7 linked regions of the Homo sapiens genome follow. The protein of the gene in region 1 purifies or fractionates together with the protein of each later gene. This does not show direct contact. Each region holds a gene or a part of one and is shown in the gene's direction. Other genes may lie near its edges.

Region 1 (4,137 bases):
TTTGTAAGCTACAGTGGTTAAGGCCCATAAGCTACTTCGTCTTTTCTAGGAGTCATGTTTCTTTTTTTTTTGAAGTTTATTCCTTTTTGCATGGTGTTACTGTTATCTTCATTCATCTGAGGTAGTCTGGCATTGTTGTTAAGAGTGGTTTCTGAAGCCAAAATGCCTCACCAGTGCCACACTGTCTTAATTATTCTGGTCTTGATATCTGGTAAGGTAAGTCACCACACCATGATGGTATTTTTTTTCCCCTCTTCCCAAAATGTTGTGTTGCTTCTTGACTTTTTGTTCTACCATGTAATTTTCAGAAATGCCTTGTCCAGTTTCCAAGGAGAAGGTTAAAAAAAACCAACAACAACAAAAAACACTGGGGATTTTGATTGGAGTTGCATTTATCTGCAAGCTCTTTTAGATTTTCTCAGTGCTCAATAATCAACTTCATATTATGGATTGGTTTTTCTTTCTAAACTTTGTACCTCCCCACTTGCTCCTCTCCCCCTCCCTTTAGCTTACTGCAATGACTAGGACCCTCTGCACATTGTTAATAGCTGTTATGATGGAGGGCAACTGGCTCTGTGTTGCAGCCTGCGAGGTCCTTCACCATCTGGCTTCCATTACTCTCTGACCTCAGCTCCTTAGCCTTTCTCCTTGGCTCACTCTGCTGTAGCCTTGCTGGCCTCCTTGCTGCCCTCTGAACACACCAGGCACATTCCCACCTTAGGATCTTTTCATTTGTTATTTATTGGGCTAGAATGCACTTCTAGATGCCTGCCAGGCTTATTTTCTTTAGATCTCTTCAGTCAAATACCACCTTTTCAGTGAGGGGCTTCTCTAGCTACATTACTTTTTTTTCAAAACAACTTCATTGCAGCATAGTTTTTATATCTTACAATTTGTCTATTTCAAGTATACAATTCAGTAATTTTTAGAACTGCCAAATTGTACAACTATCATCATTAATCAGTTTTAGAACATTTTCACCACCCTAATAATACCCCTGACCCCATTAACTGTTTATTCTTGTTTTTATCCCTTATCCCAGGCAACCACTAATCGGTCTTTCTCTATAGATTTGCCTTTCCGGACATTTTACATTAATGGAATCAAACAGTATATGATCTCTTGTATGTTGATGCTTTCACAAAGCAAGGGGGTTCATCCATGATTTAGCATGATCAATACTTTATTCGTATATATGGCTGAGTAACTTTCCATTGTATGGATATACCAAATATATTTATCCATTCATCAGGGTAATGGATAAACTACTAATTGATGGAATTAGTAGTTTTCTGATTTTAGCCATTATGAATAATTGCCTAGCCACCCTTTCTTAATACTATCTACCCCTTTTTCTTAAAGAATAACCCTTCCACTACTCTCTAACAGTCCTTTCTCTACTCTCCAACAACACTCTTTCTGTCCTTTTGGTCTTTATTTTTTCCTCCTTATCACTATCCAGCATACTACATGTTTTTTCATGTGTCTCGTTGTTTATCTATACTAGAATCTAAGTTCCACAGGGCAGAAATTTTTGTCTCACATTGATCACTGTGGTATCTTTAAGACCTGTAACTGTGTCTGTCATATAGTAGGCAATCAATAAGCATTTGCTGAATTAATAAAGACATAAGTGAATAAATTGAATGTTTACTTTGCTCTGTACTGAGAAATATTTAAAGATTTACCAGGCGCGGTGGCTCATGCCTGTAATCCCAGTACTTTGGGAGGCCGAGGCGGGCAGATCATGAAGTCAGGAGATCGAGACCATCCTGGCCAACACGGTGAAATCTCGTCTCTACTAAAAATACAAAAATTAGCTGGGTGTGGTGGTGGGTGCCTGTAGTGCCAGCTACTCGGAGGCTGAGGCAGGAGAATCACTCGAACCCGGAAAGTGGAAGTTGCAGTGAGCCGAGATTACACCACTGCACTCCAACCTGGTGACAGAGCGAGACTCCGTCTCAAAAAAAAAAAAAAAAGAGATATTTAATGATTTAAGCGGTTTGATGTTTCTAGAATATTAGTATTTTTAACCTCTCCTGTGATAATTTGGGGTGTTTCAGGGTACCTTCTGGAGATTGGTGATAGTTATATTTTTTAAAATCATGTCTGTGTCTCTGCAACTTTCTGAAGACTATAGGTGAGAGATGTTGTATTGACAATACTCATGTATTGTCAGTGCTGTAATCGCTTTGGCACTGTAGCGTGGGGTCTAGGCATGGCATCACATGTAGCATAAACATGACCTACTCTGGAAAGGGAGCTTGTCAGAAAGCACAGGACCCAACAGCCTGTCCTGCTGAGAGTGTAAGTCCCTAACTAAAATCAAAATTTTGGGGACATTTTTTCTTGTGTGTGTGTATGATGATGTGATAGAAGTCTCATGGTGAGGCAGTATTCATATAAGATTGATGATCTGTTATTAACTTAATTCTTAAAGAACACTCAATTCTTAGATTTAGTCAATTGGTATATGCCAGTTTACAAAAGTAAATGCAGTTCTAAAACATTTTTTTATTATTATTTATTTTTTGTTTTTTTTGAGATGGAGTCTTGCTCTGTCGCCAGGCTGGAGTGCAGTGGCGTGATCTTGGCTCACTGCAACCTCCACCTCCAGGGTTCAAGTGATTCTCCTGCCTCAGCCTCCCGAGTGGTTGGAACTACAGGCACGCACCACCATGCCTGGCTAATTTTTGTATTTTTAGTAGAGATGGGGTTTTACCATGTCGGCCAGGATGGCCTTGATCTCTTGACCTCGTGATCCAGCCGCCTCGGCCTCCCGAAGTGCTGGGATTACAGGCGTGAGCCACCACACTTGGCCAAAACATTATTTTTAAAACACTGTTTTACAAATTAGACTAATTTTAGGATGCATTAAGAAGCACACTGTTGAAAACAGTGTTTTTTACATAGGATGGGACAGGGGCGCACTTGACAATGTCCGGAGACATTTTTGTTTGTCACACCTGAGGGTGTTGTTGCTGGCATCTGGTGCGTTCTAGTGGCATTCAGCCAGGGATGCTGTTAAACATCCTACAATGCACAGGACAGCCCCACAACAAGGAATTATACAGTCCAAATTGTCAGTCGTGCCAAATTGAGCAATCTCAATTTAAAGGAATCTGTAATGTGTTTGTAAATGAATAGAATACTTACATAAAGTATTATACAAACACATGTATATATATGTTATATGTAGAAATAATATATAATATATATTATACAGAGAGAATATATATGTGTAAGGGGGGTTTGTGTGTGTGTGTGTGTGTGTGTGTGTGTGTGTATATGTATGTATGTAAGGGTGTGGGGTAAGGAGAGAATATATTCCTTAAGGAGAGAATATATTCCTCTATTCTCGTAACAACCCTTCCTCTACTTATATTTCTCTCCTTACCCCACATCCTTACATATCTGTATGGTAAGTTAAATTTATTTTATCTTTTAATTTTGTTCCTTAGTTAAAAAAAAAAAGGTAGAAAATTTGACTGTACCTCCCTATTCTATGATACGTCTTTCTTCTAACTCTAGTTGCTTGTGTTGTGTTCCAGAATATTGTCTATTTTCACACTTTAGAGCTATTATCTTTCATAAAGCATTGTTAAGGTTTAAGTAGCTTGTTTCTTCAATGCTCAGTTTCTCTATATTTCTCTATATCCGAATTATCTGTCTTGATTAGTCAACAAACCAGGCTTGAATATTAGATTGGGAAGCATTTAAAGACCTGATGTCATGGATTTTTTTTTTTCATTTTCATTTTCATTTTGCAATATGGAGCATCAAAAGAAATAAAAATAGGGATTTACTTATTTATAATTTGGGTGATTGTTGTCTGAAATACTTTTGTAGTTTATCAAATAGTGATTGTTCGTCTTACTTTTTTTAACTGTCACCTGTTTTTAATGCAGATTAATACTGAGGAACACGTGGATGCAGCTGATCAGGAGGTTATCTTGTGGGATCATAAGATTCCTGAGGATATCCTAAAGGAAGTAACTACTCCTAAAGAGGTACCAGCAGAAAGTGTTACTGTCTGGATTGACCCACTTGATGCTACACAGGAATATACAGGTAATTTTTAAACTGAACTCAAAACATTTGATTGACGTTTAGTAGTAGAGAACCAGAACCAAGGCA
Region 2 (4,137 bases), on another chromosome or scaffold:
TAAAACATTATGAAATTTTTTTTGCAATTTTTTTTTTTTAAAGCTCATCAGCTATTGCTAGTGTTAGTGTATTTTATATATGGCCCAAGACAGTTCTTCCAGTGTGGCCCAGGGAAGCCAAAAGGTTGGACACCCTTGCTCTAAATGTTTAAGGTGAAGCATATTAACATGCTGTTTTTCGGTGATTGGGTCTTAAGAAGATAATCTAAATAATTTGTTGAAGTTTAACCATACTCACATAATTTAAACAATTTAAAGTTATTTGGCGGGTAATTGAAACCATGTGTTCTGTTTATTTTGCATCAAGAGTCACTCATTATACTTTGCTAGTCATGGCTAAGGTCCAGATGCTTGCTAGCTTATTGTGAGCATTTCTTCCTGATTTCAGCAACCACATGGGGAAATTTTTTCTCTTTTTTTTTAGGCAAGTCCAGAGAGTTGAGGGGTGGGGTTGAGACTACTGGGATTTTGTATTGCTTTAGGTTTTGGTTTTAGGGATTAGCCTATATATTTTTTCCTTTCATCACATCTTTAAAATTTTTTTTTTTAAGAGATGGAGGTCTCAAGATGTTGCCCAGGCTGCACTCAAACTCCTGGGCTCAAGTGATCCGCCCTGAGTAGCTGGGAATACAAGGTGCATGCCATCAAGCCAACTCATCATGTCTTTACACTCTAATAACCAGCCCTGTCAACTTATCTGTTGGTATGTTTTTCCCTTGGGAGGCTCGCCACCATGTTTTTAACCTATAGTACTCTTTTTAGGAGGCAGGAATTGCTGTCTTACCCTGAGCCCAGGCGTTTATGCTAACTCATTGCTTTAACTGATTTTTACTTCAGCATTTATCTTTTTAATGTCTGGATTCTCCTAAGAACTTTAAAAGCTAAACTTTACATTTAAGCAAATCATTAATGTTGGAAATATTTTATATATGTGAGCTAATAACCTTATGTGAATATACTTGTTAAACCAGTACCTAGAGCAAGAAACAGAAGCCCTAGCCCTCCACTTGAGTATCTTTCCAGTCACTACCCATTCCTCAGGGGTAACCACTGGCTTAATATTAGAATTCAGCATAGATTAATTTTGCCTAGTTTTTTGTACTTTGTGTCTGCTTTTTGTTCAATGTGAGATTCATCCATATCGTGTGAGATTGTCCTTTGTTCTTATTGTCTTACCAATTTATTTTTAACATGTTTATAATCTATAATATTTAAAAAATTACTTTGACATATTCTGAGTCAAGTCTCCCTCTCTTTTTTGCTGAACAGAAGGTTCAGTTTTTGAATAAGCAGATGGTCTGGCTTCAGATTACCTGTTAGGAGTGAGTCTAAAGTCATTGTGATTGATTTTTTTTTTTTTCTTTACACATTTCAGATTTTTTTTTTTTAACCAATGATATTTGTTTTTTGCTTTTATAAAACAGGGATGGCTAGTCCCCTCAGAAGATTTTCATGCTCACTTGGGCAGAGAATCAGTGCATAAGTATTTAAGTAACTCTTTAAAGACCACAGTAAGGATGGCAGATAGTTTACACCTAAATTCAACTGCCAAGTAATTAGCAGTATTTCTTTAATTGACCCAGTGTTTGAGGGGGAGGGACAGCAAAAGTGCCAGGTATTTTCCTTTCCCTGTGTGTGTTTATTCTATAGATGCTTTCCATAGAATATTTTCAGGATGCTTTATTGAGAATTACCACAAATAACTGGTGTCATATATGTTTGAATGTCTTCATTGGTGGCAAATCTTAGTCTTTTAAGGTTAGATTTAATTATTTTCAGTGGCCAAGTATAATTTGGAGTATGCCTATGGAACAGCAGAAGCAGAGAGAGGCTCTATAGTCCTGTCCAAAGTGTATTCTTTGGCTTTTACATATAATTTAAGCCTTCTGAGCTTCAGTGTTTTCATGTATAATGGAAAAGTAGTCATTCCATATGATGGTTCTGATTGTACTGCTGTGGATGTTTATTAACTCCTCCCCAGGTCTTCGCTTTATTTTGTATTACTTTAGGGTTTCCCCATAGTGTGTTGCCTGTTTTTGAGACAGGGTCTTTCTTTGTCACCCAGGCTGGAGTGCAGTGGTGCGATCTTGGCTCACTGCAGCCTCAACCTCTTGGGCTAAAGTGATCCTCCTGCCTCAGCTTCCCGAGGAGCTAGGACCACAGGCACACACCACCATGCCCAGCTAATTAAAAAAAAATTTTTTTTTTATAAAGACAGGGATTTCACCACATGGCTCAGGCTGGTCTTGAACTCCTGGGATCAAGTGATCCTCCCGCTTCAGTCTCCCAAAGTGCAGGTATTAGAGGCATGAGCCACCGCACCTGTTTTTTTTTTTGTTGTTGTGTTTTTTGGTTTTTGTTTTAAGACAGATTGTGCTGTGTCGCCAGGCTAGAGTACAGTGGCGAGATCATAGCTCACTGCAGCCTCGAACTCCTGGCCTCAAGTGATCCTCCCGCCTCAGCCTCCCAAAGTGTTGGGATTACTGCGACCGGCTCTAGGATGCACTCTTGAAGCATATTATTCCCCTGCTGTTTTGTCATGCAGCCAGACTTGTCCAATCATATGTTTTCTTTCAGGGCTTTGGATCTTGAGAGAATAACGAGCTGTAGGGTTTTTTGGAGACCTTTCCAGAGTCATGTCAGCGTGTGGATCAGACTGTTCTTTGGCATGGTTCTTTGAGCTGCTTTCTCTGGTCTGTTGGCACTGTTTTTTTCCAGTCTGATTTTCCAGTCATCTTTCAGTGTTGTGAGTTTCAACAGCCTTCCAGTAAAGTTGCTTTTTAAAGATAGCCAGAGTCAGTTACTAATGTTTCTAATGCTTGTAGACAAGAACTGTAATACAGTAACTTAACTCTATGTCTTGAAAAATAAGTAGGTACTTGAGGTAAATAATATGTAATGGGGTAAAATACTTAAGATTAACCAAAATGATAGAACTGACTTTTGTGTGGCTTTTACACAGGCTCCAAAGATGTTTTCCATTTTTGGAATAAGGTTCCCAAGGTCACTACTTTGAAGTATAATAGTGATGAAGATGTATAACTTAACAAAAATTGTTTTCCTTTCTATACGTGTGGTGATGTCCACCATCTCTACATATCAAATCTGTAAATCAGAAATTCAGTCAACAAGTATTCAGAATTTCCAGATGTGCTGAGTTTTAGTAATTTAAAATATAATAAAGGCTTCTGAGTTTTTAATGAATTTTCGTTGTTTCTAAGACAAATGATATTTCCTTCATATTTTTTGAAGTTTTGAATTTTTATCTATTTTTTTCAGGTGTTTAAACACAGGTATGAGATATACAGGATCTCAGAAATTACTTTTGAAGTTCATTAAACTATTTGATTGTACTTTTTTTCTTTTGAGACAGGGCCTAGCTTTGTCTTCCAGACTGGAGTGTGGTGGTGTGATCATGGCTCATTGCAACCTCGACCTCCTGAACTCAAGCAATCCTCCCTCCTCAGTCTCCTGAATAGCTGGGACTATAGGCGCACCCTATCATGCCCAGCTAATTAAAAAAAAAAATTTTTTTTTGTAGAGACGTGGTCTCACTATGTTGCCTAGTCTCGAACTCCTGGCCTCAAGCAATCTTCCCGCCTTGGCCTCCCAAAGTTCTGGGATTACAGGTGTGAGCCACCACGCCTGGTCTGCTTATTATACCTTTTCAACAAGATTTTATACTGTTGAAATTACTTTTTAGTGCTTTGGGATTCTTTTACAATATGGTCAAAATATTCACTAACTCATCTCATAAGTTATACTAATATTTGATATTTGTTAATTTTGGACTACCTGAGAGTTCTTGTATGGAGCATTTGAATTACGTTTTAGAATTGTATTTTGAAGGCTGGGTGCGGTGGCTCACACCTGTAATCCCAGTACTTTGGGAAGCCGAGGTGGATGGATCACCTGAGGTCAGGAGTTCAAGACAAGCCTGGCCAACATGGTGAACCCCTGTCTCTATTAAAAATATAAAAATTAGCCAGACATGGTGGCGAGCACCTGTAATCCCAGCTACTCGGGAGGCTGAGGCAGGAGAATCACTTGAACCTGAGAGGCGGAGGTTGCAGTGAGCCAAGATTGCGCCACTGCACTCCAGCCTGGGCGACAAGAGTGGAACTCCATCTCAAAAGA
Region 3 (4,137 bases), on another chromosome or scaffold:
TTGTATGGAAGCGAAAAGAAAGAACTTCTGTTGGTTTATACTTGATCTTTGTTTTCAAATTATCTTTTCGTATTATGTATTAGATTTTTTGTTGGAACTTGGAATGTGAATGGCCAGTCTCCAGATAGCGGGTTAGAACCTTGGCTGAACTGTGATCCCAATCCTCCTGATATCTACTGCATTGGGTAAAGAACACTTCTGGAATTTCCTTTTGGCTATATGTTTGGTGTTCATTTACATGATGTTTTGCCTTTTTTAAAAAAGACTGTTGGTAAAACCTACTGTAGACTATACACGAGAGTTAACTTGCGGGTCAAATTTGTGAGAACAGAAATGAACAGATACCTAAAATGGTGTAAGGAAGCATCTAATTTTCTTGAAACCCGTAGGAATCTATATATTCTGCATAGAAACTAAGACTTGGGGTCAGTTCTAACAGTGACAGTTCCTAGGATATAAGAGCAAAGCTCTGCTGTTATCCTCTGTGGGAGGTATTTTGATTTATTTTTTGCATAGCTTATGAATGTACTTGTGGGAATTCTTTAGAAAAGAAAGCTACTTGTTCTTACTGATAACCTGGGTGAACAGAGCAGTTCTATAAAATTTATCTCTCTCCCATCTTTTTTTCATCTAATGTTTCAACATATGGGACAGGAGGTAGCCAGAGATAATTATGGGATATGTATAGATCTCATATCCCTTTTTTCCTCAGATTCCAAGAACTGGACTTGAGCACAGAAGCCTTCTTCTACTTTGAATCTGTGAAGGAACAAGAATGGTCCATGGCTGTAGAGAGAGGTTTGCATTCCAAAGCCAAGTATAAGAAAGTAAGCCGCATTTAATTATCTTTTTAAGTGTATGACTAAATAGGGCTCACCGGGAGTTATTCCATTATCTACAACTTGTTCCAAAAGAATAGTTTAATTGAATTCTTCTCTGTGTGTAATACTGGGATAGGGCAGATTGATCATTCATCCTTATTTCCTAGAAAAAAAAATCCCTAAGCTTTCTGATACTATATTTTCATTGCTTAGATAGCTTTTAGGGGAAAAAAGAATTTTATTATGCTTATATCAATACTTAGTTTGAAATAATTACATATAAGATTTAGATTACTCACTGACATGGTCAGAATTGAATGCTTTACAGAAAAGCAATATGAAACGTGGGCGCATGGTGCATGTGTTGCAATCAGAGCAAGAATAGAAGTGGTGTGGAATTTGAACGAGTTCTAAACTTGGTTTTAAGTTAAGAGGAGAGTTGACTTTAGCAAGATGGGCCAATTTGTTTGTCTTTAGAAGGTATGTGGTAAAGGCATTTAGCTACCAGAAGAGTTAATTACAGGGCTATCATACTAAGGTCTCTAAAAGAAGTAATGTGAGTAATTTTTCTCTACATCTTCTAACAGTTTATATAGGTAATAAAACTCCTGGGGATGTTATTCCTCTCATATAGGTCCCTGACTAATGTATATCTCAGACATATTTCTAGCTGTAGTTCACAAGTTAAAAATAAGTAAAAAAGATTGCTGTTTGGTTGATTTCAATTTCTTAGAAAATTAGACATCAGAAACTAGGAAGGAAAGGTGGAAGGAACAAGCTGGGATAGTGGCTTTATTATTTGAACTTTTAATGCTGCTTACTCCTGGTAGGCTAAGAAGTGATTAAAAGAATAGATCTAGAGCTGAAAGTACTCATTGTCCCTCCCAGCTTTTAACTCTTATTGGTCAGTGCCAGATTAGAGCCTCCCCAGAGAATATTAGTTTCCACTTGACGGGGTCCACTGAGAAATTAGAGGATATGAAGTCAGATTTGGGCACTAGTATATCATCTTGATGGAAAATTAGTCGTGGGACATTAGAAATGTGGCAAAGATTGGTATTAACATTAACCTTTTGTAACTCCCCGGAACTCATAGGTTCAACTGGTGCGCCTTGTTGGGATGATGCTTCTTATATTTGCCAGAAAGGATCAGTGTCGATACATTCGTGATATTGCTACAGAAACAGTTGGAACTGGAATCATGGGGAAAATGGTGAGTTACTTTGGAAATGAGCTTGATTATTATTCATGTTCATGTAAAGTTCAGTTGCTTGTTCTGTGTACTAATTGAATAATTACTCTTGCTAACAGGGAAACAAAGGTGGGGTAGCTGTGAGATTTGTATTTCACAACACCACCTTTTGCATTGTCAATTCCCATCTGGCTGCACACGTGGAGGACTTTGAGAGAAGGAATCAAGATTATAAGGACATTTGTGCGAGAATGAGTTTTGTGGTCCCAAATCAGACCCTCCCGCAGTTGAACATCATGAAACATGAGTAAGTGGTTAACTCACCTGTAGCCTTTGAGTAGTGGCTACAGGAGTTTGGATAGTGTAGAGATTAAATGTGAGATACTGTAGAGCTGTGAAGAGTGAAAGATTACCAGTGAGGGATTGGGGTCACAAAGGAGAGGGTTTTTGAGTAATAACAGAATCATTGAGGCAGAGAAATTAGACTTGATATCAGAGGAAAAGATAGTTCTATTAGTGGGGCACCTAGAATAATGCTGGAGGGTCTGTAGTTGGAGTCAGTTTTTATTGTTTTTATGATAAAATAGAAATATTCATTGCAAATGTAATAAAAGATAAAATTAGAAGTTAAATTTCCTCATTTCTTATTCTCTACCTAGCCAGTCCCTCTCTCCAAAGGAAACCATTCTTAACAGTTGGGTGTGTAGCCTTTTAGATCTGTACTGTCCAATATGACAACCAGTAGCCATATATGGCTGTTAGGTACCTGAAAGTGACTGGTCCAAATTAAGATATGCTGTATGCATAAGCTATATATTGGATTTTAAAGACTTAGGAAGAAGATGTACGATATCTTGATTTCTAAAATATTGATCACATGTTGAAATAATTTGGATATATTGAGTAAAATGAAATTTATTGATACTCACTTGTTTTTTTTCTTTTTAAATGCAGCTACTAGAAAACTTAAAATTATATTGTGAGGTGCATTATAATTCTATTAAATAGCACTATTCTAGCCTTTTGTCTATTCATATACAAACACACACATAGGTACTTGGTGTATAAGACTGTATTATTCTATTTATTGTGGATTCCTTTCCAAGCCAGTATATATAGATCTACATTATTCTTTTTAATGGCTGTGCTTATTAAAAACAGGGGCAGCAGAGAGAGGTCAGTGAAGAATGGGATTTAATAAGCATAGAAGCAGAGATGTGTTGAGGAGTAGATGTGGTGGTAGAAAATGATTAGTTTTAAAGAAATTAATATACCTAAAACCATGAAAACCCTAGAAGAAAACCTAGGCATTACCATTCAGGACATAGGCATGGGCAAGGACTTCATGTCTAAAACACCAAAAGCAATGGCAACAAAAGCCAAAATTGACAAATGGGATCTAATTCAACTAAAGAGCTTCTGCACAGCAAAAGAAACTACCATCAGAGTGAACAGGCAACCTACAAAATGGGAGAAAATTTTCGCAACCTACTCATCTGACAAAGGGCTAATATCCAGAATCTACAATGAACTCAAACAAATTTACAAGAAAAAAACAACCCCATCAAAAAGTGGGCAAAGGACATGAACAGACACTTCTCAAAAGAAGACATTTATGCAGCCAAAAAACACATGAAAAAATGCTCACCATCACTGGCCATCAGAGAAACGCAAATCAAAACCACAATGAGATACCATCTCACACCAGTTAGAATGGCAATCATTAAAAAGTCAGGAGACAACAGGTGCTGGAGAGGATGTGGAGAAATAGGAACACTTTTACACTGTTGGTGGGACTGTAAACTAGTTCAACCCTTGTGGAAGTCAGTGTGGCGATTCCTCAGGGATCTAGAACTAGAAATACCATTTGACCCAGCCATCCCATTACTGGGTATATACCCAAAGGACTATAAATCATGCTGCTATAAAGACATATGCACACGTATGTTTATCGCGGCACTATTCACAATAGCAAAGACTTGGAACCAAGCCAAATGTCCAACAATGATAGACTGGATTAAGAAAATGTGGCACATATACACCATGGAATACTATGCAGCCATAAAAAATGATGAGCTCATGTCCTTTGTAGGGACATGGATGAAATTGGAAATCATCATTCAC
Region 4 (4,137 bases), on another chromosome or scaffold:
TGAACTCCTGATCTCAAGTGATCCACCTGCCTTGGCCTCCCAAAGTGCTGGGATTACAAGCGTGAGCCACTGCACCTGGGCCATAGATCTTCACTTTGGAATAATTAAGCTTTTTACTTTGTTTTGTTTATTCTTCTGTGTGTACATTATATTTCACAATGCAAAATATTTTTTTTAAAGTAAACAACAATAAAAAGCAAGTTTTTGCATGTTAGAATGAGCCAAGGGAGTTAGAGAGAGGAGAAACCATCATGAGATAGAGTAATCCGGGGAAGAATAGAAAAAGGCAGTAAAACAAGCCATGCCTTTAAAAATGGGAGGATTAACATGAATGGAGAAAAGGAAACACGTTCTGGATGAGGGAACCTGAGTGAGCAAAGGTATCATGAGCTTGATGAGTTTGGGAGATAACTGTGAGTAGGCCAGTATGACTGAAGTAGGTGGAGAACAATGGGATTCAAAATCAGTAAATTCGATTTGGACCAGATTATAGATTTTGTTACCAGGCAGAGACTTTTAGACTCTTTCCTTTAGGGAAAAGAGAATCAGCCTAATGAAAACAGCAAAGCCCATTTCATTTTTGTGTCCAAATTAAGGGCTTAATAACATTTTTATGTTCTTTGTGAGTATGTTTTAATGTGTATATAATTGCTTGTTTTTACATGGTTTGGGATTTGTGACAAGTCAAAAAAGGAAAAAATCCTAAATGTTAAATTTTGTGTCCCAAACTCCCAAACTTTTACTGGAGAGTTCCCTAAGATCCTCTGTTTAGAACCCAGTATTATCATTTTTTTAGAAACTATGTGTCTTTCAAGCAGGCACGGTGGCTCCTGTCTGTAATCCCAGCACTTTGGGAGACAGAAGGATTGCCTGAGGCCAGGAATTCTAGACCAACCTGGGCAACATAGTGAGACCTCATCTCTACAAAAAATATAAAAATTAGCCTGGCATGGTGTCACATACCTGCAGTTTCAGCTACTTGGGAGATTGAGGCGAGAGGATTGCTTGAGCCCAGGAGTTCAAGGCTGGAGTGAGCTGTGTTTGTGCCACTGTACTCCAACCTGGGTGACAGAGTGAGACCCTGTCTTAAAAGAAAAAAAAAAATTCTTCTGAGGGGTAACTACCACAGACTGGTTTTAAAATATTAAGCATCTGGCCAGACGCAGTGGCTCACATCTATAATCCCAGCACTTTGGGAGGTTTGAGGCGGGCAAATCACTTGAGGCCAGGAGTTCGAGACCAGCCTGGCCAACATGGTGAAACCCCATCTCTACTAAAGGAAAAAAAAAATTAGCTGGGTGTGGTGGCATGCACCTGTAATCCTAGCTATGCTGATGGGAGAATCTCTTGAACCCAAGAGGCAGAGGCTGCAATGAGCCAAGGTCACACTACTGCACTCTAGCCTGGGTGACAGAGTAAGACTGCCTCAAAAAATATAAACTAATTAAATTAAATATTAAGTATCATTGTCTTATGAAAACAATCAAGAAATTTAAATATAATTTGAAGAGTATAACCTTTCAAGCACAGTTAAAATTAGATACTATCTCAGTTCAATAACACTGACCTCAACTGAGAAAGTAAACATTGAGCACAAGCCTGACCAAAATAAAATAGGTTTATCTCCTGTTGAAATCAGGAATCTGCTTATTTGTTATTATTGCCTTTGGTAAGAGTTTTGATATAGATTATTAACTCATGAACAGTGTTTTAATTGACTTGCTAATGTATAAAACTTTTCATTTATTAGAATCGTTTCTTAAGTTACCTGTAAGGGGAGTAAGCCAATTACTGCTTTTGACTCCTAGTGGTCTTTTCATTTCTCATCTATTTAATTTGTGGATAATGTTTTTCAACCATCCTCTCTTTCTTGGAAAGCTTTCTCCTAGTAATGCCATTTATTGAATACTTACTACTTACTGTGAAAGAAAAGCTTTTCATCATATTTCTCATGTCACTGTGGTAAAAATTGGCAAGAAGTATTATCCATTGGAAATATGGCAATACATTTTCACTTATTTGTTTAATCACCAAAAATTTTATTGAATGACTCATATGTCATAGAAAGAGAGAACAAAAACAATTGTCCCTGCTTTTGAGGTCAATTTATGGTTTAGTGGCATAGGGATGGTTGGAGATGCTGGGAGTAGAAGCCAGAAAGTCAGCAGACCATTTCAGAACAATGTGATATGTGTATAAGTGTGTTCTGAGTAGGAAGGAAACACAGAGGAAAAGCACGTAAATCAGATGGGTGGTGGGAAGGAGCAGTAGGAGAGGGAAGAAGAGATGTTGGGAAAGACTTACAGGAGGTGATAACTCTTTTTTTTGTTGTTTGTTTGTTTGAGATAGAATCTCATTCTGTCACCCAGGCTGCAAAGCAGTGGCGTGATCTTGGCTCACTGCAACCTCCACCTCCCGGATTCAAGCGATTCTGCTTCCTCAGCCTCCCAAGTAGCTGGTATTACATGCACCTGCCACCATCCCCGGCTAATTTTTGTATTTTTGTAGAGACGGGGTTTCACCATGTTGGCCAGGCTGGTCTTGAATTCCTGACCTCAGGTGATCCAACTGCCTTGGCCTCCCAAAGTGCTGGGATTACAGGTGTGAGCCACTGCGCCCCGCCAGGAGGTAATAACTCTTAACTGGAATAAGAGTGAGTTAGTCTGTAAAGAGACAGGTTCTAGGAAAAAAGAACATCAACTGGATGTTCCTAATAATTTCAGTGATGTGCAACTGGAATAACCACAGATGTCTGAAAGCATCCCATCTCCTTTTAATGAACTCCAGTGTTTTAAAACTGAAGTATGAGAGCTGAACATCCAGTTACATGCTTTATTGTTTAAGTTTTCTAAAATTGTGAAATACAGTGTATCCAGAAAATTGTATAAAGCACATATATACAGTTTAACAAGTAGTTTGAAAGCCAACAGTCATGTAATCACCAATAGAACAATATCAGCATCCTGGAAGGCTTCTCTTATGCCTGCCCCTAATCACATGCTGCCCACTTCCCTGTAGTTTTGACATGTATGTATATCCCTAAACAATATATTTTAGTTTTGCCTGTTTTTAAACTCTATTTTATTGGGTTAATATTTTAATGTATTCTTTTGATCAATATAATGTTTGTGAGATTTGTCCATGTTGTTGCATATAGTTTAATCCAGTTCATCCTGATTAATATTTCATTACATGAATATACCACTATTCATTCTATGGGTTAATGCACATTCAAGAGTTCATTATGAACAGTGCTGCTAAAATTCTCCTGGTACTTGTCAGTTATCTTTTTTCAAACAATCTACTGTTATCCACTATACGTATGGGAATTATACGTATGAAATTCATATGTATTTTTAATTATAAAGTATGTTAATGCTACGCTTTTTCAAGCTGCTGATGATCCTCCATCAAGTATAGTTCATCTTTATTAGCAATAGGAGATTAGAAGTAAAAGCTTCTTTAAAGCTGGTAAAAAAAATTCACTAATCAAAAAGTTTTTTTTTGTTTTTTTTTTGAGACAGAGTTTCGCTCTTGTTACCTAAGCTAGAGTGTAGTGGCACGATCTTGGCTCACCGCAACCTCTGCCTCCCGCGTTCAATTCTCCTGTGTCAGCCTCCCAAGTAGCTGGGATTACAGGCATGCACCACCACGCCCGGCTAATTTTTTGTATTTTTAGTAGAAACGGGGTTTTACCACGTTAGCCAGGCTGGTGTCGAACTCCTGACCTCAGGTGATCCGCCTGCCTCGACCTCCCAAAGTGCTGGGATTACAGATGTGAGCCACCACGCCCAGCCCAAAAAGGTTTTTAAAATCAGTCACAGTCAGTCAGTGTCCAACTTGTTGATTATTGGCTATGAATGAAGAAAATTGGCCGCCTTAAAAAGTGACTCAATCCTAAAGCATTTTATTATAATTAAAATATTAATAGCAGGCCGAGCAAAGAACAAGACCTTGTCTTAAAAAAAAAAATTAAAAGTCTAATTTAAGTTACTACCTGGTCTTTCCTTTTAGTTTCCTAATCGCGCAAAATGAACAATAAGTCTCCCAGTAGCTACTGCGATTGTGAATAGGGCAACTGTATCAGAAGGGCTTGTTTGTCAGGTTTTTTTCTTTAAACATAAGCTGTTAAAAAAA
Region 5 (4,137 bases), on another chromosome or scaffold:
GTTTAGAGTAGTCTTACAAAAGCTTTCTCTATAACTTTACTGTTGTGCCCATGGGTTGTTACAGCTGGGAGTAATCTTGGTTATCTAGACCAAGGACTTTCACATTTTTTTGAGATGAAACCTCCTTTACTTGTCTAGTGAACTGTTACACAAAATCCCAGTATTTAATACAAATGAAAGAAGACCTGCTCTTTCTAGCGCGTCTTGGAATCACACCTTAGTCATGCATTCCCCTAAGCCTAAAGATGGCCCATGAATAATTTGTTCTAACTATCCTGCATGCTCTGTTGTCCAGGCTGAAGAGCAGTGGCACAATCTTGGCTCACTGCAGCCTCTGCCTCCCAGGCTCAAGCGATCCTCCTACCTCAATCCCCAAGTAGCTGTGACCACAGGCGTGCACCACCACACCCAGTTAATTTTTTTGTTTGTTTTGTAGAGGCGGAGCTTCATTATATTGCCTAGGCTGGTCTTGAACTCCTGGGTTCAAGCAATCTGCCCACCTTGGCCTCCCAAAGTGCTGGGATTGCAGGCGTGAGCCACCATGCCCAGCCCCTAGCTTCAGTCTTACCCAGCAAAATATAAAGTGTCAAAGAATAGTTTAATAAAGCAGGCTGAAACCTGATTCCATGTCTTCTGATTCATTTAGGGCTAGCTACCTTTCTACAGCATAGAAGTCATAGAATATATTTTATATACATTCTAGGTCCATATCACATTCGTTTTTATAACCAGCCTTTTGTTTTGGAAATCCCCCCACCTTGTCTCCTTATCATTGTAACACTTGAATAATGGAAAATCAGGAAATAACAATAAAAGGGGCGTTAAATTAAACTGATGCTCTTTTCCTTGATTTCTTGCTTAGTTAAGCAAGCAGCATTTCACTATTCCTCAAAAATAGATTTGTGTACATTTTTTCAGTATCTTGAATGCTTTGAGTTCCTTATCTCTTTTTTATGACAATTTTATTGAGATATAGTTTACATATCATAAAATTTATTAATTTAAAGTGTACGGTTAACCAGGTCATGTAGCTATCACCACCATCAAATTTAGAGCATTTCACCCCAAAAAGAAATCCCATACCCATTAACAATCACTCCTCACATCCTACCAACCCTCTTTCCCCCCAAACTTAGGCATCTACTGGTCTACTTCCTATAGATTTGCCTCTTCTGGGAATTTAATAGAAAGCAAATTGTACAATATGTGGCCTTTTATGACTGGCTTCTTTCACTCACATAATGTTTTCAAAGTTCATCCATGTTGTGACATGTTAGGTACTTCATTCCTTTTTATAGCCAAAAAATGTTCTATTGTGTGGTTATACCACATTTTGTTTCTCCATTTGTCAGTTTATATGCATTTGAGTTGTTTCTACTTTTTGGCTATTATAAATACTGCTGCTGTGAACATTTGTGTTTAACTTTTTGGGTGGACATAGATTTTCAATTCTCTTGGACATATGCCCAGGACTCTGGCTGGGTCATATGGTAATCCTGTGTTTGACCTTTTGAGAAATTGCCACACCGTTTTCCAAAGTGGCTGCATCATTTTACATTCCCACCAGCAGTGTTTAGGAGTTCCAGTTTCCCCACATCCTCATTAATACATGTTATTATCTTTTTGTTTCTAGTATCACCCATGATAGTGGATGTGGTATTGATTGTGACTCTGATTATAATTTTTCTTATGATTAATGTTGTTGAGCATCTCTTGATGTGTTTATTGGCCATTTGTATATCTTTAGTGAAATGTCTGTTCAGATCCTTTGCCCATTTTAATTGGGTTATGGAGTTTCTTGGGCTTCTTGAATATGTACATTAATGTTTTTCATCAAATTTGGGAAGTTTCAGCCATTATAGTCATCTCTCAGTACCTGCATGGGATTGGATCCAGGATACCATGTGGAACCAAAATCCATGGTCGATCAAGTCCCTTATGTAAATATACATATTTTCATATTACCTGTGCATATCTGCCCATATACTTTAAACCATCTCTAGATTGCTTATAATACCTAATACAGGCCAGGCACGGTGGCTCACGCCTGTAATCCCAGCACTTTGGGAGGCCGAGGCGGGCAGATCACGAGGTCAGGAGATCAAGATCATCCTGGCTAACAAGGTAAAACCCTGTCTCTACTAAAAATACAAAAATTAGCCAGGCGTGGTGGCAGGCGCCTGTAGTCCCAGCTACTTGGGAGGCTGAGGCAGGAGAATGGCATGAACCTGGGAGGCGGAGTTTGCAGTGAGCCGAGATTGCACCACTGCACTCCAGCCTGGGCAACAGAGTGAGACTCCATCAAAAAAAAAAAAAAAAAACCCTAATACAATGTAAATACTATGTAAATAGTTGTTATATTGTATTTAAATTTTTATATTTATTGTTATTTTTTATCGTTTTTTTCCCTAATATTTTTGAACCATGTTGGTTGATTCTATGGGATGTGGAACTCATGCATATGGAGGGCTGACTGTATTTCTTTGAATACTTTTTCTGCTCCATTCTCATAGTTTTCTCCTTTGACACTCACTGTATGTATGTTGGTACATTTAATGGTATCCCACATTTTTCTTAGGCTCTGTTTATTTCTCTTCATTCTTTTCTCCCTCTGTTCTTCAGATTGCATAATTTCTATTGATCTATCCAAGTTCTCTGATTGTTTTTTCTGTTAGATCTACTGTTGAGCTACTCTAATGAATTTTTATTTCAGTTACTATAGTTTTTAACTTCAGAATTTCTATGTGGTTCTTTTGATATATATATAATTTCTTTATTAATACTCTATGTGATGAAACATTGTCATCTTCTGTTACTTCCTTAAGTGTGACTTCTTTTAATTCTTTGAACATACTTACAATGGCTGCTTTGGAATTTTTGTGTATTAAAGCTAATGTCTGGGCCCTAACACAGGCAGTTTTTGTTGCTTGCCGGTTTTTTTTTTTTTTTTAAGCGTATGTCACATCTTCTTGTTTCTTTGCATTCCTCATTATTTCTTTTTCGAAAACTAGACATTTTAGGTAATACACTGTGGCAACTCTGGATACTGATTTCCCTCTACCACCACGGCTTGGTTTTTTTTTTTCCTTGTTTATTTATTTATTGACATGGCTGGACTATTTTAACAAATTATTTCTTCCTCCTTCCCCGACCTTTTGGCAATATGAAGCCTCTGCTGTTGCTCCTCAGGGCCTGTGCAGTTATCCTAGGATGGCATTGGATTTAGCAGGGCTCTCTTTATCTCTTTCCATGCCTCCATTGGTATCACTCCTATTAGACTCCACTGACTGTTCACTAATTGCTGTCTTGTTTTTGACAATGCTCTGGGGCATAAATTGCTCCATAATCTGTCCCTACTAAATTGGGCCCTTTTGCAGGGATAGTTTTTGCAGCAAGTCTTTGAGATTTGTTCAGACCCCAGGAGGTATATTCTTACTATCTCTCTCTGTGGTTCTCTCTAGTAAATTAGCTGGCCTACAGTTTAGCTGTTGCCCTCCTGGAGTTACCAGCCTCCTCTTAATTGCTTACTACCAAAATCTCCATTATTTTCAAGAGGCTGGAACTTCTCTAAACTCTGAACTTCTCTACATTCTATTTTAAATAAAGTCAGTTCCTTAGGGAAGAACTTTGGAGCACTTTGTTCTTATGGACTTCCTCTCCCCCGGGGGAAAAAATCCATGAGGTTTTGCCCTGAGGATGGGGACAGTGACACACTTATTAAGCAGAGTGACCACCTCTGCCCTATGAGCAGGACACTGGGTAGGGGCAGGAGGACCCCCAGTATTCTCAGCTGGCCACACCTGGAAGTGGAGCCTCCACCCTGTTGCTGTGGGCTGGGTGAAAAAGAGCTGCACCTGTTTAGAACTTAGACTCTTTATTTGGAGCTTCTGTTCCCTTGTTTCCTTTCTTCCTGGTATTCCCATTATACATATGTTACATCTTTTGTAGTTGTCCCACCGTTCTTAGATATTTTGTTCATTTTATTTTCAGTCTTTTTTTTTCTTTGATTTTCTGTTTTGGAAATTTTTATTGTCATATCCTCAAGCTCAGAGATTGTTTCTTAAGCTAAGTCCGGTCTACTAATGAACCCATCTAAGGCATTCATTTATTTCGCAGTGTTTTTGATCTCTAGCATTT
Region 6 (4,137 bases), on another chromosome or scaffold:
CCCAGAGCAGGTTTCCAGTACTTCCACACCTCCCTCGGCAGATGGCTGCACGTGCTGTCCTCCCGAGGAGGGAGGATCCAGCGGTGCTAGTACCTTCTGCCCACCTCGGCTCCACATCAGTGCTCTAGCCTGTCCTCTTCGTGTTTCTGCACCTTCTTAAGCTAGTGCTTTCAGCCCTCTTGTTTCCTGCCTTCTCCGGTACCTGCCCATCTCTCCGTTCTGTTTTCTGTCTCACATCCTCCTGCCCATCAGCTCCTCCTTACAGACAGGCTCAGTTCCCTGCCTCCCTAACCAGCACTCTTTCTCTGAGACTCGGCACTGAGGGCTTCCTCTGAAAGAAGTATTTCCATAAAATAGGTGATAGTCCCCACTCTAAAGAGAAGCAGGAACGTGTTTCTGTGTGGGCAGTGGAGAGTAGGAGACAGCACATGAAATTCCTTTGAGAGAACAGATTTCTGAGTAAAGCACAGTGAAATGCCACTGCATTTAAGAAACTGGAAGGAAACCAGAACAAGGAAAACTGGATTGCACTCCTTCCATTCTGCATGTTTTGCCTCACTCTGCACCAGTCTCACATGTAGCCAAACTGGGCCTGAGACAGGTGTCAAGGGCAAGCCCATTAGCCCATTGCCTGCTCTTGCCGCCATGTATGCATTTTCTGCTGGCCGGCTGCTTGGAGGGTGGAGAGTCAAGGTTTCTTTGCTCAAGAAGACCTTGGCGCACCAGGTAAATGCCTGCCGGTGTTAGGCTGGAGGAAAGGGACATCAGAAACAGGCTGCTGAGTGGAAGCCAGTCAGAAGTTTTATGAAAACAGCAGCAGCTTGAGACAGCCCATGCTCACAAGAGGGGACCTGTCAGTTAAGCCCTTTCCCCTGAAAGAAGAATGACATTAAACCAGGCCTTGTGGTGCACGCCTGGTGCATGCCTGTAGTCCCAGCTACGTGGGAGGCCGAGGCAAGAGGATCGCTTGAGCCCCGGAGGCTGAGCTTAGAGTTTGGGAAAATCACTTCATAACCTTTCACAAGATCTGAAAGAAATAAGCTTCACATTCTTTCCACACTATGTTTACTTTCTCAACTTTACAAGTTCTTTTTTGTTGTGTTTGTGTGTGATGTTTGTTTTATATTTGAAGGAATATCTTTATCATTTGTTCTCTTATTTAGGATGAATAAATTTAAACATGGCTGTCATTCAGAAACAGAAAAGATTTATAGAAAAATACAGAGACATTGTTCTTTTCTCTGTAAGGTCTGTAAGCTGCTCACAGACATGCCTGGGGTTGAAGAGGGGTTAGTGTTGGATGCTGGCAGAGTATAGATTGCATTGAACTGTATTTAATCTTCTGATTTCAAGCACTGAGATAAATTGAGGTCAGGGAACCTCTGAGACAGAAGTAGGCTCTTTTATCTGGGTCGTTTTAAATGAGATGCTGTTTTTAGATTATACGTAACTGAAAAAAAGAGGCTCGTCTTACTTCCATGTTTTTGTCCCTTCTACAGGTCAGCTCAAGTAATGTCGTCTTGAAGACGGGATTTGATTTTCTGGACAATTGGTAAAATGTATTAGAAAAATACAATGAAGAACCCTAAAATGTTTTCCAAAGTGGTGTGGTGGAGGAGGATAAAAAGGGCCACCTTTTCCTATGTATTTTACTGGTTTCTTGACACTCTTTTCTTAATCATTTGGAAACTGGTCAATATTGCCAGATTTTTTTCTTTTTTGGTAGAACCAGATATATATGCTATTTTCAGTGATTTGATAACAGAAGTTTTCCATTTGGAATTTTTAAGGTCTGTTAATAATTCAGGAGATCTTGTAAATAAAACTTCTGTTCCCAGCTCCACCCAACTTTCCCCCTCCTCAAAGGATGTGTTTCAACCATGTCACAAAAATCATATAAGTGATTTCCATCTCCTTCTCCATTATTCCCCCTCCCCCCTCCGCTTTTTACCGTATGGGTTCCTTTTGGTGGGTGATTGAGGGTGATGTTATCAGCCATGACATCAGCATGCTGGCTGTGACCCCGGAAAGACTGGCCCCCAGCGACGTTCTCAGCCAGCGCTCGCAGCTGTCCGGGGCTTCTCTGGCAGAAGCCATGTCTCTCACATCATGTGCCAGCCTCCACCCTCACGCCATTTCCAGGGAACAGACTGCGGGTATGTAGCAGTGTAGTCTTTAACCTGCTCTGATACATATTCAGAGTATGGATTGTTGTTTAAAAAGAGTTGCATGTTTAAAGAGTTTTGTACTAGCTTTTCATTATTTTGTATCTAGATTATCAACAATGGGGCTACCACTTTCCTTGGTTTTATATCCATTTCCTCTTGGAAGTTCTTGTTGCTTATGTGACCTGTTGGTTGTTCCCCGGACTGGGCACCTACAGGAGTCAGGGCAGACGGCAGATGTGGCTGGAGGTCAGGGCTCTTCTGCTTAGTTGTGTTAGAGTCTTCCAGCATGGGACTGATGGGAGCAGTGGGCATTCTTTATCCCAAGGGCTAGCCAGGTTGCGTCATGACGGACCTTCCCCAGCCCTGACCACCACCAGAAGTGGAAGAGTGGAGTTTGCGGTCAACTCAGCAGTGCCCATGGAGACCTGCGTGGTGTCAGAGCAGCAGTATCTCTTGGAGCTGGTGCAGACACCAAGGCTGCCCAGTGGTACAACGTGGTCCACCTCCCCTAGGGAAGCTGCTGCACTCAGAGGCTGTCCTGCCCAGTGGCCCCTGAGCCGTGTGAGCCTGCAGGAGGCGTCTGAGCAGAGCCTCAAGCCCGGTATGGCGCCATCTCCATGTTGCCATCACTGCGTTCTCACCTGAAGCCTTAATCTTTGCGACACCTGCCAGTGAGCGCTCGGTTTCAATACCAAAGTGTGTCTTCTTCTTTTTTTTTTTTTTTTAAATGCCTGTTTCATAGGACCTTCTGAAATGATTTCCAGAATATTTTATCTGGCTCCAAAATAAAGCACATAGCAACTCACCTCAACCCCTCATCATCTCCAGGAAAGTTTCTGCCAAAGCTGTGGCATAGCCAACTTTTGATTTGGTTCTTGCCAATTGTTTTATGTCCCTAAACCTCATTTGGATCCTTGGGGTATAGTTTTATCTTTCTGCTTCAGTGATTTACTGTAACTTTTCAAATATTGGTTCTTTCTGTACCATTTAAGTATAGTTGATATATGTGAGGCAAAAAAAGGTTTCAGCATGGTGGTGAGGGAAAAAGGAGCTTAGAAATCCCAGTTGGCACAGCCTGGGCAAGCGCCAGCTCCCCTCAGGGCTAACGGCACTGTTCACACAGGGATCCTCAGAATCAGCGGCCACCTGCCTCCACCTTCTGCCTGGAGGGCATGGGGCTGTTGTAGAACCTATGGTAGCAAATGTATATGTATGAGTTTGTATTCTGTAGTGTTGGTGTAGCACAGAAGAAAGACCTGTGTCCTAGAGAGTAGGCCAAGGTGATCTGCCTCTTCTATTGGGAGAAATTCTAATTTCTTTCCCACTTTCTCAACAAGCCCAATATTCCCTCCAAGTTCTTCTTGGTGCTGAGGGCTGTAGGAATTATTGAAAGCTTCTGCCTCACTTAGTATCGTCTGGGGCCCAGCACCCAGCAATAACTCTAATAATGTTTCTTAATGGTATAGCCTCCTGAGATTAAATGTAAAATCAAAAATTAGGAAATCTTGGAGGGAGTCCTCAAGTTGTATTGCTTTGCTGTGCTTTTGGAAGAAGGGACGACCTGGAGGACACAGGCTCCTGTGTGGGTCTTCATCCTGCCTGACCGGCAGATCTTCCTCTACACCTTGGGCAAAGTCTATGCGAAGATGGTTTCTTAGCTCTCCATTTGCCATGATTTTCCTCCCATTCATCATGAGGGAGTTTCTCAAACCAGGAGTTTATATTTATTTTTTAGAAAATACACACTTTTCAGGAGAAACCTGAGCATGATTTTGGATTCTCCACCTCCCCCCAGTCTCTGCACCTGGGATTCAGCTCAAGGATTCAGTGTCTTCATTTTTACAAAAGTTCCCCCAAGAAATCAGCAACCAGCCTCTGTTTCATCTGGGAGCCCCTCCCTTGGCCCCCTGGGTTTGGGGGTGCTGCCCTACTGGGAACAGCGGGGGTCTGTCACCCGTCTGAGCCGCAC
Region 7 (4,137 bases), on another chromosome or scaffold:
TATAAAATATTTTCATAATTAAAAACTTCACTTTTGAAATGTCAGATTCATTGTTTTGTCATGTAACTATATAATAAAGGTTTTATTTTAATTTGTTTATACACTTATCAGGATTTTCTGACTTTACTGGCTATCTATAATGCATTTGACTAATGGAAAGGACACTTGCAGGAGACTTTCTTTGAAGAGACATCTTTTTCCTCCTGCTTTTGTAGATTCGTTTTGTAATGAAGGCCCACTCATTTGTCAGAGAGAACGTGCCTCGGGTACTAAATTCAGCTAAGGAGAAATCAAGTATGTAATTTCTTTTGTTCATTATTTCTTCCTCCCCTCCCCTCCTCTCCCCCCACCCCATTCCCTTCCCTTCCCTTCCCTTCTTTCCTTCTTTCCTTCCCTCCCTCCCTCTCTCTTTTTCTCTTTCTCTTTCTCTCTCTCTCTCTTTTTCTTTTCTTTTCTTTGTGTAATTTCATTAGTTTAAAGGATTATTGGCTGGATATTTCACCCTTTGTTGTTTTCTGGGATGTCACATTATATAATGTAGAGATTGTGTTTTATTTCAAATATATATTATCCATATTGATTTTGAGGACCACTTCATTGTTTCCTGACTATTCCGGCTTTGCCCTTGAACCTACAATTTTAAAAAATTGATTATCTTTTGCAACTTTGCATTATTTTTATGGAATGTTAATAGCCTCATTACACCTGTGCCTGCCTATTCTTTGCAAATTGTTGCTTCACACTCTAGAAGTTATCTCAGTCACAGGAATAACTTGGTTTAAAGAGATTGGTAATATTCAATTCGTGCAAGAATAAGAAGTCATTCCGGAGATCAGGAAAAAAGAACATGAGCTGATAAGTCATTTTATTCTTCCCTGTTCTGTGCTTCCTTATATTCCCCCCTGTATTTTTGCTGTGAAAAATCAAAGAGCCTTTGCTCTAACTATAGTTTTCCTTTTCTAGGCACTGTTCCAATACCTACAGTCAACCAGTATTTGTACTTCTTATTTGCTCCTACCCTTATCTACCGTGACAGCTATCCCAGGTAATGGTACTGTGAACCAGAAATGTGGTAAACACCAAAAGTGTGGCATGAGTGAGGTGGGATAGGTAAACAGGGGCCAGTTCATGTAGGGACATAGAAAATATAGAATGAGTTTTCATTTTCTGTCTGACCTGAGAAGCCTCAAATGGTGAGTAGGGAAGTCTAATTTGATTATAGTAATTCTTGACAGAATTATAAAGTATTTCATATGGTCATAAATGATGTTCTGAATTAATTAATTTTTATTTATTTTTATTATTTTTAATTTATTTTTTATTAATTAATTAATTTTAGTTTTTTCTGAGATGGGAGTCTTGCTCTGTCACCCAGGAGTGCAGTGGTGCTATGTCGGCTCCCTGCAACCTCTGCCTCCTGGGTTCAAGTGATTCTCCTGCCTCAGCATCCCAAGTAGCTGGCATTACAGGTGTGTGCCACCACGCCCGGTTGGTTTTTTTGTATTTTTATTAGAGACGGGGTTTCACCATATTGGCCAGGCTGGTCTCGAACTCCTGGTCACTGCCTTCCAAAGTGCTTGGATTACAGGTGTGAGCCACCGCGCCTGACCAAAAAACATTAATTGTGAGGGTCTTTATTCAAGTTCAATTACTTTATTTAGAAACCTTATTTTTGTTTCTTTCTTTTTCAGGAATCCCACTGTAAGATGGGGTTATGTCGCTATGAAGTTTGCACAGGTAAGTTTTTGTAACTGCCTAAGGTATGTTGATTAGGGGATGGGGATTCATATTTATGATAATAATATAATCTAGTTAAATCTAATTGGGAGCTAAGAATGCTTTCTGTTGACATTATGCAGTCTTTTAAACTATTTCCAGTACGGTAAATGGTGTTTGTTTTGCCAACATCAAAAGTAATTTTCTTTAATAAAAGAATATATTAGGCTGGGCGCAGTGGCTTGCGCCTGTAATCCCAGCACTTTGGGAGGCCTAGGTGGGCAGATCGCGAGGTCAGGAGTTCAAGACCAGCCTGGCCAACATGGTGAAACCCCATCTCTACTAAAAATACAAAAATTAGCCTGGCGTGGAGGCACGTACCTGTAATCTCAGCTACTCAGGAGGCTGAGGCAGGAGAATTGCTTGAACCTGGGATATGGAGGTTACAGTGAGCTGAGATCACTCCTCTGCACTCCAGCCTGGGCGACAGAGCAAGACTCCATCTAAAAAAAAAAAGAATGTATTATTTATAAAGTAATTCTAATTGGTTATTTCAGTAAGCATTAATTTCCCCCTTCCTTCCTGTTTTTGGGGGAGGTATATATGTATGTGGGTATAGTCTGACTCTTACCCATTCCTCCTCCCACCTCCATCAGAATCATTAATCCTGGAAGATCCCATTTTAAATTAGTGTCTCAATCAAATGCCCATTTATGAAGTAAGTTCTTTCATTAAGGGGTTTTTTTTTTTTTTTTTTTTTTTTTTTTTTTTTTTTTTTGAGAAGGAGTCCTGCTCTGTTACCGATGCTGGAGTGCAGTGATGCAGTCTTGGCTCACTGCAACCTCTACCTCCTGTGTTCAAACGATTCTCCTGCATCAGCCTCCTGAGTAGCTGGGATTACAGGTGCCCACCACTGCGCCTGGCTAATTTTTGTATTTTTAGTACAGATGGGGTTTCACCATGTTGGCCAGGCTGGTCTCGAACTCTGACCTCAAGTCATCCACCCGCCTCAGCCTCCCAAAGTGCTGGGATTACAAGCGTGAGCCACTGTGCCCGGCCATGTTACGGGTTTTAAGCAGCAGGAAAACAGGTTCCAAGAGTAAGCTCTTCTAAAAATATCATTTGGTAAAGGGTTAGGAAAAGTGATGGTAGAAACTAGGCTTGAGTAATCTCCCTGAAGGATTATAGCAGTCTTCTATACTAGTGTTAAATGGAATACATATGCGAACATTACTGTAAGGGTCACATCTGTACTTTCTTTTGGAGAGAAAAAAATCGCCTTCCATCTTATTAAGCCATCGTTATTATAATTCTGTCTCTGTTATGTTCCAGGTCTTTGGTTGCTTTTTCTATGTGTACTACATCTTTGAAAGGCTTTGTGCCCCCTTGTTTCGGAATATCAAACAGGAGCCCTTCAGCGCTCGTGTTCTGGTCCTATGTGTATTTAACTCCATCTTGCCAGGTAACATGGGTACTTGTTAATTTGGTCATGCATAAATTCACGAGGTAAATAGAAAGCTATTGCCTATGAGCACCTTTGCTTTGCCTACTTTTTCATCTAAACTTCTATACATCTATGCCCATCTTGACCTCTTTTGCATCTACTTTATAAATGAAGTATCCTTCATCCAGTCTCAGGTCAGTCTTTCATCTTATGGCTTTCACTCAAGTTGTGCCTTTCTCTGACAGTGGACAGTCCACATTCATGCTGTGTCTTCCTGTTCGCTATTAAGTTCATTGTAATCTTGCTCCTGATTCCACCAAGCCACTTAAATGCCCCTTGTTGAAATTACTAGTAACTTGTAGAAATTACTTGTAGAAATTACTAGTAATCCATATTCTAATCCAGTGGATGGATTAAGATGTACTTTACCCCTTATCCAAGTTGACCTCCATGAAGCATTGGGTGCTGCTGACCACATTTTTAAATCTCTCTTGTCACTGTTTTCTTGCCTTTTTTTTTTTTGAAATCGGGTCTCTCTTTGTCACCCAGTCTGAATGCAGTGGTGTCATCATGGCTTACTAGCCTCGACCTCTGGGGCTCGAGTGATCCTCTCGCCTCAGTAGCTGGGACTACAGGTGCATGCCACCATGCCTGGCTAAGTTTTTATTTTTTGGAGAGACGGGGTCTCCCTATGTTGCCCAGGCCATTCTCAAACTCCTGGGCTCAAGTTATCCTCCTGTCTCAGCCTCTCAAAGTGCTGGGGTTACAGGCTTGAGCCACCATGCTTGGCCTTTTGCCACTATTTCTTATTTTCCTCCTGTCTTTCCGACCATACCTTGATTTCTTAAATATATTTATTGCATTTTTTTGTCTATTATAGAGATATATGAGTACCTAGTACTATGCCAGGTGCAGAGGACTCAGAAGTGAACAAGAGATGTATTATCTTTACAGTCTGGGAGCTTTTATAGTTTCCC

The links.
Region 2: the proteins of BPNT2 (region 1) and GOLPH3 purify together in Homo sapiens (affinity purification with mass spectrometry; one large-scale study listed by BioGRID and IntAct). This does not show direct contact.
Region 3: the proteins of BPNT2 (region 1) and OCRL purify together in Homo sapiens (affinity purification with mass spectrometry; one large-scale study listed by BioGRID and IntAct). This does not show direct contact.
Region 4: the proteins of BPNT2 (region 1) and GOLPH3L purify together in Homo sapiens (affinity purification with mass spectrometry; one large-scale study listed by BioGRID and IntAct). This does not show direct contact.
Region 5: the proteins of BPNT2 (region 1) and CSGALNACT2 purify together in Homo sapiens (affinity purification with mass spectrometry; one large-scale study listed by BioGRID and IntAct). This does not show direct contact.
Region 6: the proteins of BPNT2 (region 1) and C1orf198 purify together in Homo sapiens (affinity purification with mass spectrometry; one large-scale study listed by BioGRID and IntAct). This does not show direct contact.
Region 7: the proteins of BPNT2 (region 1) and SOAT1 purify together in Homo sapiens (affinity purification with mass spectrometry; one large-scale study listed by BioGRID and IntAct). This does not show direct contact.

What each region holds. Positions count from the first base shown.
Region 1 is NC_000008.11:56,979,969-56,984,105, reverse strand, and holds part of BPNT2 (Golgi-resident adenosine 3',5'-bisphosphate 3'-phosphatase), read left to right. Parts: intron 1-3,908; coding exon 3,909-4,071; intron 4,072-4,137. UniProt on the Homo sapiens protein: Exhibits 3'-nucleotidase activity toward adenosine 3',5'-bisphosphate (PAP), namely hydrolyzes adenosine 3',5'-bisphosphate into adenosine 5'-monophosphate (AMP) and a phosphate.
Region 2 is NC_000005.10:32,167,183-32,171,319, reverse strand, and holds part of GOLPH3 (Golgi phosphoprotein 3), read left to right. Parts: intron 1-4,137. UniProt on the Homo sapiens protein: Phosphatidylinositol-4-phosphate-binding protein that links Golgi membranes to the cytoskeleton and may participate in the tensile force required for vesicle budding from the Golgi.
Region 3 is NC_000023.11:129,560,467-129,564,603, forward strand, and holds part of OCRL (inositol polyphosphate 5-phosphatase OCRL), read left to right. Parts: intron 1-83; coding exon 84-185; intron 186-712; coding exon 713-827; intron 828-1,917; coding exon 1,918-2,034; intron 2,035-2,132; coding exon 2,133-2,320; intron 2,321-4,137. UniProt on the Homo sapiens protein: Catalyzes the hydrolysis of the 5-position phosphate of phosphatidylinositol 4,5-bisphosphate (PtdIns(4,5)P2) and phosphatidylinositol-3,4,5-bisphosphate (PtdIns(3,4,5)P3), with the greatest catalytic activity towards PtdIns(4,5)P2.
Region 4 is NC_000001.11:150,686,956-150,691,092, reverse strand, and holds part of GOLPH3L (Golgi phosphoprotein 3-like), read left to right. Parts: intron 1-4,137. UniProt on the Homo sapiens protein: Phosphatidylinositol-4-phosphate-binding protein that may antagonize the action of GOLPH3 which is required for the process of vesicle budding at the Golgi and anterograde transport to the plasma membrane.
Region 5 is NC_000010.11:43,176,316-43,180,452, forward strand, and holds part of CSGALNACT2 (chondroitin sulfate N-acetylgalactosaminyltransferase 2), read left to right. Parts: intron 1-4,137. UniProt on the Homo sapiens protein: Transfers 1,4-N-acetylgalactosamine (GalNAc) from UDP-GalNAc to the non-reducing end of glucuronic acid (GlcUA). Required for addition of the first GalNAc to the core tetrasaccharide linker and for elongation of chondroitin chains.
Region 6 is NC_000001.11:230,837,271-230,841,407, reverse strand, and holds part of C1orf198 (uncharacterized protein C1orf198), read left to right. Parts: intron 1-1,499; coding exon 1,500-1,556; 3' UTR 1,557-4,137.
Region 7 is NC_000001.11:179,341,899-179,346,035, forward strand, and holds part of SOAT1 (sterol O-acyltransferase 1), read left to right. Parts: intron 1-111; exon of another isoform or gene 112-215; coding exon 216-294; intron 295-963; coding exon 964-1,045; intron 1,046-1,691; coding exon 1,692-1,737; intron 1,738-3,048; coding exon 3,049-3,178; intron 3,179-4,137.